Regions from separate parts of the Homo sapiens genome. Here all the other regions are linked to region 3. The links come from fine-mapping of genetic effects on gene expression. A gene starts in region 3. Each other region holds a variant in brackets. All regions are shown on one strand. Distances are between the middles of the regions. Region 1 overlaps P4HA2-AS1 (P4HA2 antisense RNA 1). Region 2 overlaps SLC22A4 (solute carrier family 22 member 4). Region 3 holds the start of SLC22A5 (solute carrier family 22 member 5).

Region 1 (4,244 bases), 180 kb after region 3:
ATCATATCATGATATTATCTCTTAATCTGTCTTTCATATTTTTATATATATGCTATATTTGGGGAGAACTTTATAGCTGTTTTGTACAAAGTTCACTAATTCTGTCTTCTATCAAGTGCATACAGGAGTCTGTTTAAGGACTTTAAAGATGTAATTCTTTGTTTTCTGGCTTATACCATTTCTGTTGAAAAGTCGCTATCTGGTCCTTTGTTGTTCCTTTGAAGGTGATTTTGCCTTCACCTGGCTGCTTTAAAGATTTTTTTCTTTTTGGTTTTCAGTAGTTTTACTATGGTGTACTTAGTATGGGTTTCTTTTTCTTTTCTTGCTTGGCATTTAGCTTCTTGAATTTCTGGGTTGATGTCTGATCAATTTTGGAAATTTCTCAGACATTATATCTTCAACTATTGTTTCTGTCCCATTTTTTCTCTATCTGCTCTGAGACTTCAGTAATCTGAATGTTAGAACTTTTCATAGTGCTCTATATATCTCCAGTTCTTGTGTCTCTCATGCTTTTTTCTTTGTGTTTCAGACTAGATATTTTATACTGATCTGTCTTGCAATTCATTTATTACTTTTGCTGCTAAACCCATCTACTGAGTTCTTAATTTCATTTTTCTTATATTTCTCAGTTCTAAAATATCCATTCATGTCTTTTTTTTTTTTTTTTTTCCTTGAGACGGAGTCTTTCTCTGTCACCCAGGCTCGAGTGCAGTGGCGGGATCTCAGCTCACTGCACCCTCTGTCTCCCAGATTAAAGCAATTTTCCCACCTCAGCCTCCCAAGTAGTTGGGATTAGAGGCACGCACCACCACACCCAGCTAATTTTTGTATTTTTAGTAGAGATGGGGTTTTGTCATGTTGGCCAGGCTGGTCGCAAACTCCTGACCTCAAGTGATCCACCTGCCTCAGCCTCCCAAAATGTTGGGATTACAGGCGTGAGCCACCACGGTTGGCCCATTCATGTCCTTTTAATGGATTTTAACTCTCTGGAGAATCTGTCTTCTGTTTTCTCTGTGTTTTTCTCGGACTGATAAATCAGTTATGTGAATTTTTTTGTCCGATAACGCCATGATTTCGATTTTCTATGGCTCTCTTTCTATTGTCTTTTTCCCTCCTTAGTTTCTGGTCATTTGGTCCACTCTGTTGATATGCCTGGCAATTTTTGATTGAATGTGTATGACAAATTGTAGAGCCTCTGGATGGATAACCTCCTGCACAAAGGGCTCACCCTTTCCTCTACTATGCAGAGTGGGGATCAATCACCTTAATCCAGTAAGGATCTGAGCTGACTTAAAATTAAGACTGGGTGGTAGTTTTCTTAAGACTCTATCTCTGGTTTACCCTTATTTCCCCCCTTATAGGATGTAGTCCTCCAGGATTTTCTAATTGAGAGCCTAGTGTGTTCACTGGATCTGTTTCCACTGGCAGTTCCTCAACTCTAATTCTTGTCTTCTCAGTACCAGACTCAGCCCAAAAAATTTATCCTCCTTTTCAAAGAATTTGAATTTTTGAATCTAAGCAGATATTTTTTGCTTACCTTCTTAGCCTTGCATTCTGCACAGCGTCAGAATTCAGAAAATGCCTCAGTGGGTAAACAGGCTGAGTGGCCAAGTTCTCCACTCCTCCCTCTTATTCAATATTCTGAGAAACTACTGGCTAATTTTGGTTTTTCAATGCCCCTTGACACTGTCAAAAATTATTTTGGTTTCTCTGCCTCTTAGTAGTTGCCCATTGCTCTGGATCCTCATTCTTACCCCATGGCTACAATCAGTAAATAATAATAATAATAATAATAATTATTATTATTATTATTATTATTATTATTTTGAGGTGGAGTCTGGCTCTGTCACCCAGGTTGGAGTACAGTGGTGCAATCTCGGCTCACTGCAAGCTCCGCCTCCCGGGTTCACGCCATTCTCCTGCCTCAGCCTCCCGAGTAGCC[G/T]GGACTACAGGTGCCCACCACCACGCCCGGCTAATTTTTTGTATTTTTTAGTAGAGATGGGGGTTCACTGTGTTAGTCAGGATGGTCTCAATCTCCTGACCTCGTGATCTGTCCGCCTCGGCCTCCCAAAGTGCTGGGATTATAGGCATGAGCCACCACGCCCGGCCAGTAAATTGTTTAAGGATAAAAGAGACTACAGACTTTTGGCTCACCCACAAGATTTATCCTTCTTCAGGATCTTGATGCTCAAACTCTTTTTGCTTCAGCAATTGACTGATGTCTTCCAACAATTTTAAGAGATTTTATTCAGCTTTATTCTAGGAATGAAAATTGGTCTACCATAAGCTACTCTATCTTGGAAGTAGAAGTGGCCTATTCATTTTTTAAAAAATCATTTTTCCTATACTGATACAGAAAACCTTATCTTTCATATCTTCTTTTGTTACCTAGTATAACAAGACGCTTCACACTCATCTTGAGCATTTCTGACATTAAGCATGGAATCAGCCGTTAAAGAATCTTATTATATGTTGATGTCTGCCTATCAATCCCAGCATGGTCCTGGGAACAAGCATGAGATAACTTCTGTCTTAGAGCCAGGGCACTGCTTTCAGCAATCCTTATTAATTGAGCTTGGCATTAATATGTTCACTAGGGCAGTAAAGAGTTATTGAGCGTTTCATTATGCATTTGGTACTGTGCTAGGGATGTTACAGTCTATTACTGCATTCAGCAACTCTTCAGAACGAATACATAAGAAGCAGAACGTCAGAAAGGTTAGGTAATATACCTGAGGTCACATGAAGTCTCATTGCTGGTAAGTGGAGGACCTGGGAATGAAACTGTGGCAGCTTCCAAAAGCCTTTGCTCTAAAACAAAATTTATATTTTCATGCATTTAACAGTTATTAAAGATTTGATGGGGAAACATAAAGACTGTCTTTATCTTTAAAGAATTCTGAGCAATGGAAGGGACTCATAAATAGGTGTGTGAAATGTGAGAAGTCTGGTAACAGAGAATGTGCTTGAGGAGCACAGTAGAGTGAAGGTCTACTTTAACCAAGAAGTTGGCACTACAGTAGGCACCGTTGGAGCTGGGTCTTGAAGTATGAGCAGGAATTTGTTTACTGTGCTATCCTAGTTTAAAATACATGCACGTGGCTTAAAAAATAAGGGACAAAGGAAATTACCCTAAATAGTTGCTGTCCCACCTTACTGCCAACTCCTAGTCCCCCTTCCTAGAGGAACCTTTTCAAATTATTTTAAATTTTTCTGCCTATTAAATGCTTATAAAATGCTGTTCCTTGATTTTTCCACTTCAGAAATTTGAGAGATGATCATTTAGTTTATATTCACTATCTCCCATGGTACCTCCCCCTGCCTTTGCCATTTTTTGATAGTTATATTTTGTATAGTCCTCTCTTGTTTGCCTGGCAACATAAATTTTTTTGTTTGGTTAAAACTAAGATGGTGAGATGAAGATCTAAACTAGAATTTTACCAAACAAATGATCACTATTGTCTAGCCAAGTTGACACATAGAATTAAGTATCATATACCCTTTTGTCTCCCAACTGCCGGTCAGTTATGCTTTGGACATTATTTTAGTAGCCATAGTAAGTTGCTTCTAAAAGTGAAAAACACAAATGTTATGTTTCTTAATTTCGTTGAATTAGTCACTATAATGTTGATGTAGCTAATCATAAAAAGGAATTTGTGTCTTATTTGTCTAATAGAATTCAAAATGAATTTATAATGTATATAATTTGATAGGGCTACAATAACAAAATACCACACACTGGGTGGATCAAACAAAAGGAATTTGTTTTCTTACTGTTCCAGAGGCTAGAAGTCTAGGATCAAGGTGTCAACAGGTTGTGTTTCTTCTGAGGCCTCACTGCCTGGCTTGGTCTGTGTGTTGTCTATGTCACCTCTTGGTCTATGTGTTGTCTATGTCATATCGGATTAAAGCCTGCACATATGAACTCATTTTACTTTAATTATGTCTTTAATGCCCTGTTGCCAAATACAGTCACATATTGGGTTAGGACTTTAGCATATGAATTTTGGGAGAACACATAAAACTACTAGGAAATCATGTTAGATCTGATATACTATTGAGACTAAAGCAAAATACTTTTCCTTACTCTTTGTACATCAGATATAGCCCATCATGAACAAATGTATCTGATTATTAAGTATGTTTGCATAAGAATAATGTCATAACACTAGAAGTTTTTTATTTTGAGAAAAGAGATATAGGCTCTTATGAAATTATTAATAAATTGAAAAAAGATATTGACA
Region 2 (4,244 bases), 29 kb after region 3:
GGGAGTGATAAAAGCTTCTTTTGTTCTAATGAGGCAACCCTTGGCTGGGCCCTTAGATAGCTTCAGGGTGGGGGCTGGTCACCAGAAGACTAAGCCTGGATTAGAAGCCTGGAACCTCTGGGGAGAGGAGAGAGGCTGGGGATAGACTTAATAATCCATCATGCCAACATGACTAAACCTCCATGAAAACCTCTAAATGATGGGGTTTGGAGAACTTCCGAGTTGGTGACCACATCCACATGCCAGGAGGGCAGTGCACCTTAACTCCGTAGGGACAGAACCTCTGCACTCAGGACCCTTCCAGACCTCTCTGTATGTACCTCTTCATCTGGCTGTTCATTTGTATCCTTTGTAAGAAACCGCTAGTGGCCAGTGTTCTGAGTGCTGTGAGTCATTCTAGCAAATAATCAAACCCAAGGAGGGGATTTGTTGGAACCCCAGACTTGGTAGCAAAGTCAGAGAGAAATGTGGGTAACCTGGGGACCTGACATTTGTGAGTGGCAAGTGAAGCAAGGCAGTATTGTGGGACTGAGTCTTTACACCTGTGGAGTCTGATGCTAAATTTAGGTATTGTCAAAATTGAACTGCATTATAGGACACTCAATAGGTGTCAGAATTGGTTTGCGTCAAGAAGAAAAACCCTTGCGCAATCTCATAAGCCAAAAAAAGATGTTGAATTGTTTTATTTTTGCATTTCCTTATTAATGTGGACAAATAACTTTTTTCATGTATATATTGGACACTGAAGTGACTTCTTCTGTAAACTGTCTGTTCTTGTCCTTTGCTGGTTTTCCTACTGAATTGTTTGTCTTTTTCTCACTGGTTACTATGAGCTTTTTGTATATTAAGTATATTAGCCTTATGTTTAGGTTTTGTGTAGCAAATATTTTCTCCTGGCTTATTGACTTTTGTCTTTGTGGGTGGTTTCTTTTTGCCTTGCCAATAATTTAAAAAATGTACAATCAGATATATCAATCTGTTCCTTTATGGTTCTTTGATTTTATGTTATGCTCAGTAAGATCTTCTCTAAGGTTATAAAAATGTTTGTTTCCTCCTGGTATATTTATGATTTTACATTTTTAGGCCTAAATTTTTTAACTGTCTGGATTTTATCTTGATGTGTTTTTTTTTTGGAGACGGAGTCTCGCTCTGTCACGCAGACTGGAGTGTAGTGGCGCGATTTCGGCTCACTGCAACATCCACCACCCTGGTTCAAGCGATTCTCCTGCCTCAGCCTCCCGCGAGCTGGGATTACAGGGGTGCGCCACCATGCCTGGCTAATTTTTGTATTTTTAGTAGAGATGGGGTTTCACCATGTTGGACAGACTGTTCTCGAACTCCTGACCTCAAGCAATCTGCCTGCCTCAATCTCCCTAAGTGCTGGGATTACAGGTGTGAGCCACCATGCCCAGCCAATGCATTTTTTAAAGAGACAACTTTTTAATTTATTCAAAATGTCTAGCTGAATGTTCTAATACCTTTTACTGAATAACTATTCCCCCTTGACTTTGCTACTTTTTATTACATACTGAATTTTTATATTTTCTTGGGTTTTATCCTGAACTCTATCCTATTCCATTGGTTTCTATTCCTATACCATTATCACATTGTTTTAATTACTATTGCTCAACAATATGCTTTATTACTATTATTATTATTTTTGAGACAGAGTCTAGCTCTGTTGCCCAGTCTGGAGTGCGGTGGCATGATGTTGGCTCACTGCAA[C/A]CTCCACCTCCCGGGTTCAAGCAATTCTCCTACCTCAGCCTCCTGAGTAGCTGGGACTACAGGTGTGTGCCACCATGCCCAGCTAATTTTTGTATTTTTAGTAGAGACAGGGTTTCACCATGTTGGCCAGGATGGTCTCGATCTCTTGACCTCATGATCCGCCTGCCTCAGCCTCCCAAAGTGTTGGGATTACAGGCATGTGCCACCGCGCCTGGCCTATTATTTATTTATTTTTTTTGAGACGGAGTTTTGCTCTTGTTGCCCAGGCTGGAGTGCAGTGGTGTGATCTCAGCTCACTGCAACCTCTGCCTCCTGGGTCAAGCAGTTCTCCTGCCTCAGCCTCCTGAGTAGCTGGGATTACATGTGACTGCCACCACACCCAGCTAATTTTTTGTATTTTTAGTAAAGATGAGGTTTCACTATGTTGGCCAGGCTGGTCTCAAATTCCTGACCTCAGGTGATCCACCTGCCTCAGCCTCCCAAAGTGCTGGGATTACAGGCGTGAGCCACTGTGCCCAGCCAACAATATGCTTTATTATCTGATAGAGCTAGTCTCTACTTATTACTCTTCTATTTCAGAACCTTCCTAGCTATTCTTCCATGCTTATTCTCCCTAAGGCATTTTGGTATCATTTTGTTAAAAGTCCTACTTACCATTTCACTTTCTGCATCTGCTCTAAGGTTTCTGGAAGAGTCATTCCCAAACTTTCAGGGAAAAAAAGGGTGAGGATTCCAATCAGGACAGTCAGACTACCCATGACGATGTAGGGCAGCATTCTGTTGTAAGCACCTGTAAAGCCCGGGACATAAGAACATCAATCAGATAGGAGGACTCTCTGGGCACTCTTGAGCATCATTTTGTGAAGTTGGTGAACAGTATAAGAGAATGGATTTAAATCTGAACATTTTCAGAGAAAAAAAAGTAAGCAAAATATCAGTTTCTTTTTGGCAGATGACATTGTGCATGTCTATAATCCTTTTGCATTATCATAAGGCTTTTCATTCTTTCCTGTCAACTGGTATCCTCTAAGCTACTACTCAGTCATGTGTGACAGATGTTCCTTTGGTAGAGTTCTTTGCCTACCAGAGTTCTCCTCTTAAGGTGGAGGTAATTGGAAATGGGGGATGGGAGGACATCAAGGAGAAGGAGGTTAACCAGGATGTTTCAGGGATAGGTTTTGGCTATGATAGGTCTGGCATGACTCTGCTTTTGCCCAAACTAGTAGGCTGCAGTGGAAAGTTAGGTCCACAGGGCTATGAGACTCAAAAAAAAAAAAAAAAAAAAAAAAAACAACTAAGTATTATGTTCACTTCAGATTAAATCAGTAAATTATAAGTATCAGGCACATTCTGTAAAGGCACTGTGTGCCTGGATTTGGCTTCTTTTTGGAGCACTTACATGTCTTGGGTTAATATGTAATCTCTTTGTGAAGCTTTACTCACACAGGAGAAAAACAGATCCTCATCTTGCTTTGCCCCTGTATACATACAGAGCTTACAGAGGAACAGCACACCCATGGATTTCATTTGACCCAAAACATAAGGAAAATATTGTTATTGCAGCTTCTCTGAGGCCTCTGTGTCACTAACAGGAGTAGCTGTGTGGAGTAGGAGACTCTTGGACTCCCTGTCTTATGTACCAGTGTCTGACCACTGGACCATCTGAGCATAGTTTGAAATAGTTTGAAAGTACAGGGAAGGACAAAGGGAAAAATAACACCACTCTGTATAATCTGCTATCTCAGGTGTGGCACAGGGCAACTGTGCAGAATATGTTTGTTAGGAAAATGTTTCTCTTTCTCTGTAAGGGTTTGGATTATACCTTTCCTGAGAATTCATACATGTTTTCAGGTGTGTGTGTGTGTGTGTGTGTGTGTGTACGTGTGTACCAGTAGGTAACCAATTGCCCAATTGATGAGGTGTGTCTGCATTTCTCACCAGTAGAGTCCTTAATGAGGACCAGGCATGGGGTGTCAGATCCTACATCAGATTGAACATGCCGCTGAAACACCTCTGTAGTTTCATTTCAGATTGACACCTTTGAGTATATAAAAACTAAAATTGTCTTCATTACAAAGATATCATAAAGTGAAAATACAAATGGTAAACTAGGAAAAATATTTACAACATATATACAAGGGGCTAATTTCTTCCATTGCAAAGAGTTTGCACAAGTCAAAAAGAAAAAGATGAATACACCTGTTGCAGGAAGTTAGGGACCCCGAAAGGAGGGACTGGCTGAAGCCATGGCAGAAGAATGTGGATTGTGAAGATTTCATGGACATTTATTAGTTCCCCAAATTAATACTTTTATAATTTCTTACGCCTGTCTTTACTGCAATCTCTGAACATAAATTGTGAAGATTTCATGGACACTTATCACTTCCCCAATCAACACCCTTGTGATTTCCTATGCCTGTCTTTAATCTCTTAATCCCGTCATCTTCATAAGCTGAGGAGGATGTATGTCGCCTCAGGACCCTGTGATGATTGCGTTAACTGCACAAATTGTTTGTAGA
Region 3 (4,244 bases):
CCAACATCCAGCAGGGCTTGAAGCTGTGCCAGGGCCTGTGGCACTCTCCCTCTCTATGAACTCTCCCCTCTCTGTGAACTCCGCCGTCCTGCTGGGTGGTTTCTTGCTGCTGCACTGGGGCCTTCAGCTCACTATTATGCTGAGCTGAACACCCTAGGCTCACGGAGAGGCCTCCTCTTCTGGGAAGCCTTCTCTAACCTGCGAATTGGTCATCTGCACATTTAGTGAGCCTATCTATCAATGAGGGCTATTCACTGGCTACTTACTCAATGCTGCTGAAACTTCAGGGAGCTAGAGTGCCAGTGTCTAAAAAAGACACAAAACACATACATCATTAACATCATGTTCCTACATCCAGCTCCAACAACTGCTCCAACAGGTTCGGAGGGGACAGACAAAACCACCCAGAGGGAAAATCCAAGGGGATGAGAAATGAGAAAGGCTCCCCTACACCCTATGACCTAAGGCTGTATGCTTTAACTAAATCTGGCCGACAGCCTTGCCTCATAATACCTGAGAAAATATTCCAGGTCAACAAGTCACCCTGAACCCATCTTCAGATGAATGGATCTTAAAGAGTGACAACTGACGGCCTGGCGTGGTGGCTCACGGTTGTAATCCCAGCTTTGGAGGCAGAAGCAGGCAGATCACGAGGTCAAGAGATCGAGACCATCCTGGCCAACACGGTGAAACCCCGTCTCTACTAAAAACACAAAAATTAGCTGGGCGTCGTGGCTCACAGCTACTCGGAGACTGAGGCAGGAGAATCACTTGAGCCCGGAAGGCGAAGATTGCAGTGAGCCAAGAACGCACGACTGCGAAGGTTGCAGTGAGCCAAGAACACACGACTGCGCTCCAGCCTGGTGACAGAGGGAGACTCTGTCTCAAAAAAAAAAAAGACTGACAACTGACCATGGGAAAAGGCAAACAATTACTTACAGGGCATGACCAGATTGTCGTTTTTGGGTTGTGGACGGTAGGGGAAGGAGTAACTAGAGGAAAAAGGGAAGAGGCAGTTGTATACACATGCTTTATTTAACTTTTAAAAGTTCAGGAAAGAGAAGTATTTCTTCTCTTCTAAAAAGAAATCAAGAGACTAGAGGAAAAACGGGATAGCCCCTGGCCCAAGTCCTGGCTCTGCTACTTACCACCCCCAACCCCAACTAGAGTAAGTCCTGGACACACAGGGCCATAGAGCATCGCCCAGGGACCGCCAGGACCTTCCTGGTACCCTCTTCAAAGTGGCCATCAGGACGGGAGGCCAGACTGACCACCTGTGCAGGGAGGAGCACACTGTGGCTGGAGGTCACCTCGTGAAGCGTTCCCAAGCCACCTGGCTGGAGGGTCTCCATCGCTAGGGTGTTGACCGTTGGGGGAGGGGGAGTGACAGCGTCCAGTGCGCATCTGGGAGAGAGGAGCTCGGGTTCAAGGACCGCGACAGGTCCTCCGAGCCCTGGTCTCAGCCCCAGCAGGGGCCGGCACCCACCTCGGTCACAATGGTGGACAGGTAGACGTCCTGACTGAACTCCCAGCCATCCAGACAGCTCTCCTGCTCCAGCTGCCCCAGGTCCACGTCGCGCCCCGGCTCCAGCCCAAGCGCCGAGAAGTTGGCGATGGTGGCGAGCCGGTAGCGGCGGCAGCTGTGGGGCACCTCGCGGCCGTCCCGCAGCCGCAGTGGGACAGTGTGGTTGCGCCAGGCGCTGCTCAGGTTCGCGGCGTCCGGCACCCGGCAGCGGTGCTCCGGGGTCGCTATCAGGAACACGGAGGACAGGCCGGTGAAGCCATTGGGGATGATGCTGGCGCTGAGCAGGAAGAAGATGAGGCGCTGGAAGGGCCCCCACTCGCCCAGGAAGGCGGTCACCTCGTCGTAGTCCCGCATGCCGCCCTCAGAGGCCCACAGAGCGCGGCCTGGGGTCGGGGAACGCGGCGGGCTTTGCGCGTGCGCGCGGGGCACCCGCCGCCGACCAGGCAAGCCAGGCAGCAGGCGACCCAAGACCGTCCGCGGAGGGTAGGCTCGCGAGCTGACACCGCCGCCTTGGTCCTGCCGCGGCTGGCCTTACATAGGGCGCACGACCAGGGAAGGTTGCGGGCCTGGGCCGCAAGGCGCGCCCCGCTGGCAGGCAGAGCGGCGCCGGCGAAGGCGGAGCTGGGGCGGGACGCGAGGGCGCGGGGCGGGCCGGGAGTGCACCTGAGGCCCGGGCGGGGCCTGTCCTGGGGACCTGGCGAGGCCCGGCCTCTGCCAGCCAAGCCTGCTGGGGACGACCGAGGTAGCCCGGGCTCGGCTTAGGAAGGCAGCGGGACTCGAGGCCTTGGGGTCCGAGTCCGAACTCGCTCCTCTAGCGCCGGGCGGGGAGCGAGTGGGAGAGCGGCCGCGAAGCTCCAGTGTTGAAAACGCACCCCTCCCAGCTTTTTGCAAGGCCTACTTGGGGGCGGAGGTAAGGAGAAAGTCACTGGCCCAGGGTCTCACAGATAGTTGCTCTTGACACCGCCTAATCTTATAAGAGGGACGGGGATTATTTTGAACCTGGGACTGTTAACTACCCTAGTAGAGAGGCTGGGAGCTATGACTTTTCATTCTAGTCCAGATGCCCTTTCCACATTTTCGTCTGTAACAAGCCATTTTGTTCATGCAGATGTAAAAATTTAACTTCACGATTAACGATCCTAGCCTAGGGTTAAATATTCCCCACAGATTAGTTATTTCCGTGCAGAGTTTATTCAGAAGCTAACTGGAAAAAAAAAAAAAGCAGCGAGGTGATTCTAAAGCAGCAATGTTCCATAGGATAAGGAGCTACATTTGTTATGTTAACTTTTCTAGTAGCCATATTAATAAAATTGCCAGATTTAGCAAATAAAAATATAGGACTCCTAGTTAAATTTGAATTTCAGATATAGAATGAATAATTTTTAAATATTATGTCCCAAGCAGGAATATATAAAATAAAAATGTAACTGGTTGTCCTGTATTTTATTGGGCAATGCTGCATATTTAAAAAGTAAAAATAAAAGATGAAATTAACTTTAATGGTATATTTAATCAAGTATATCCAGAACATGATCATTTCATCATATAATCAATATAGAAATTATTGATATTTTACATTGTTATATGTAAATCATTGATCTTTTTTTCCCCTCCTCATACTAAATCTTAAGAATTCAGTGTGTTTCACAGGTTCTCAGGATTTGAAAAAAAAAAAAAAAGGAATCCAGTGTGTATTTTACAGCACATTTCAATTTGGACTAGCCACACTTTTTATTTTTTAATATTTATTTATTCATTTATTTATTGGAGACACGGTCCCACTGTGTCACCCAGGCTAGAGTGCAGTGGCACAATCATAGCTCACCGCAGCCCTGAACTCCTAAGCTTAAGTGGGCCTCCTGCCTCAGCCTGCTGAGTAGCTAGGACTACAGGCACATGCCACCGTGCCCAGCTAATTTTTTTATTTTTTTTATTTTACAGAGACAAGGCATCCCTGTGTTGCCCAGGCTGGTCTCAGACTCCTGGGTTTAAGCAATCCTCCCACCTCAGCCTCCCAAAATGCTGAATTACAGACGTGAGCCACTATGCCTGGCCAGACTCATTTTTTAAGTGCTCAGTAGCCACATGTAGCTATTGGTTATCTTATTGGACAGCACCATTCCTAAGGCCTTTAAGAATTTGGGCTGCTAAACTTAACAATGCAAGATATTCCTTTTTAAAATAGTAGTGGCTTAGTGATAGAAACAGAACTAAGTGTATATTTTTACAATATAATGTGTTGAGTAAAGAATATTTAATAGTCACTATATTATGAGTTGAAAATAAAGCTACAGAAAGGGAACCTAACCTGGCCAGCAGATTTTTAACAAGGAAATCTAAACATTTGCATAAAGCATAATAGACTTAAAAAAATTATGATAAAGATGTTATCACAGGACTTGTTTGTTTCTTTATACTTACTATTCACTATTCTTACTTCCTGAAGATGGATGGTTATACCTTCAGCAATGTACTTAAATCCTTCTAACATCTTATGTGAAGTTATAGTTCTTATCTAGAACTAACTGAAAAAGAAAGCAAAGCTTCTTGAAAATAAACTCCTTTTTTGTGTGCTAAAATATTATTTTAATGCTTCAAAAGAAATGAAAGCTTTTATGAGAAGAATGTTGACCTCTGTCCAGACCAAACAAGATGAAGAAGTCTTATTTTAACATTTGAGAAATATCAGTTGGGCATCAGATAACATTCCTGAAAGGGA

Evidence for each region. PIP is the estimated chance that this variant, and not a neighbour inherited with it, causes the effect. A credible set is the group of variants that fine-mapping cannot tell apart.
Region 1: its variant is the best candidate, but not a certain one, in a credible set for the expression of SLC22A5 in monocytes after LPS (Fairfax 2014, PIP 0.83).
Region 2: its variant is the best candidate, but not a certain one, in a credible set for the expression of SLC22A5 in monocytes (BLUEPRINT, PIP 0.87).

What each region holds. Positions count from the first base shown.
Region 1 is chr5:132,185,862-132,190,105 of GRCh38, reverse strand. P4HA2-AS1 (P4HA2 antisense RNA 1) reads right to left here. Exons shown (of 3, transcript NR_047470.1): 2 at 2,733-2,811. Among named protein-coding and RNA genes, the nearest start is that of P4HA2-AS1, 3.1 kb to the right of the region's middle. The variant G/T (reference allele first, on the strand shown) is at 1,943.
Region 2 is chr5:132,338,836-132,343,079 of GRCh38, reverse strand. SLC22A4 (solute carrier family 22 member 4) reads right to left here. Exons shown (of 10, transcript NM_003059.3): 9 at 2,380-2,515. The region is part of intron 5 of MIR3936HG (MIR3936 host gene); the gene reads left to right. Among named protein-coding and RNA genes, the nearest start is that of MIR3936, 25 kb to the left of the region's middle. The variant C/A (reference allele first, on the strand shown) is at 1,726.
Region 3 is chr5:132,367,608-132,371,851 of GRCh38, reverse strand. It overlaps SLC22A5 (solute carrier family 22 member 5), which reads right to left and starts at 2,142. Exons shown (of 10, transcript NM_003060.4): 1 at 1,487-2,142. The coding sequence starts at 1,879. MIR3936HG (MIR3936 host gene) reads left to right here and starts at 1,936. Exons shown (of 8, transcript NR_110997.1): 1 at 1,936-2,008. RefSeq lists a silencer at 1,940-2,259.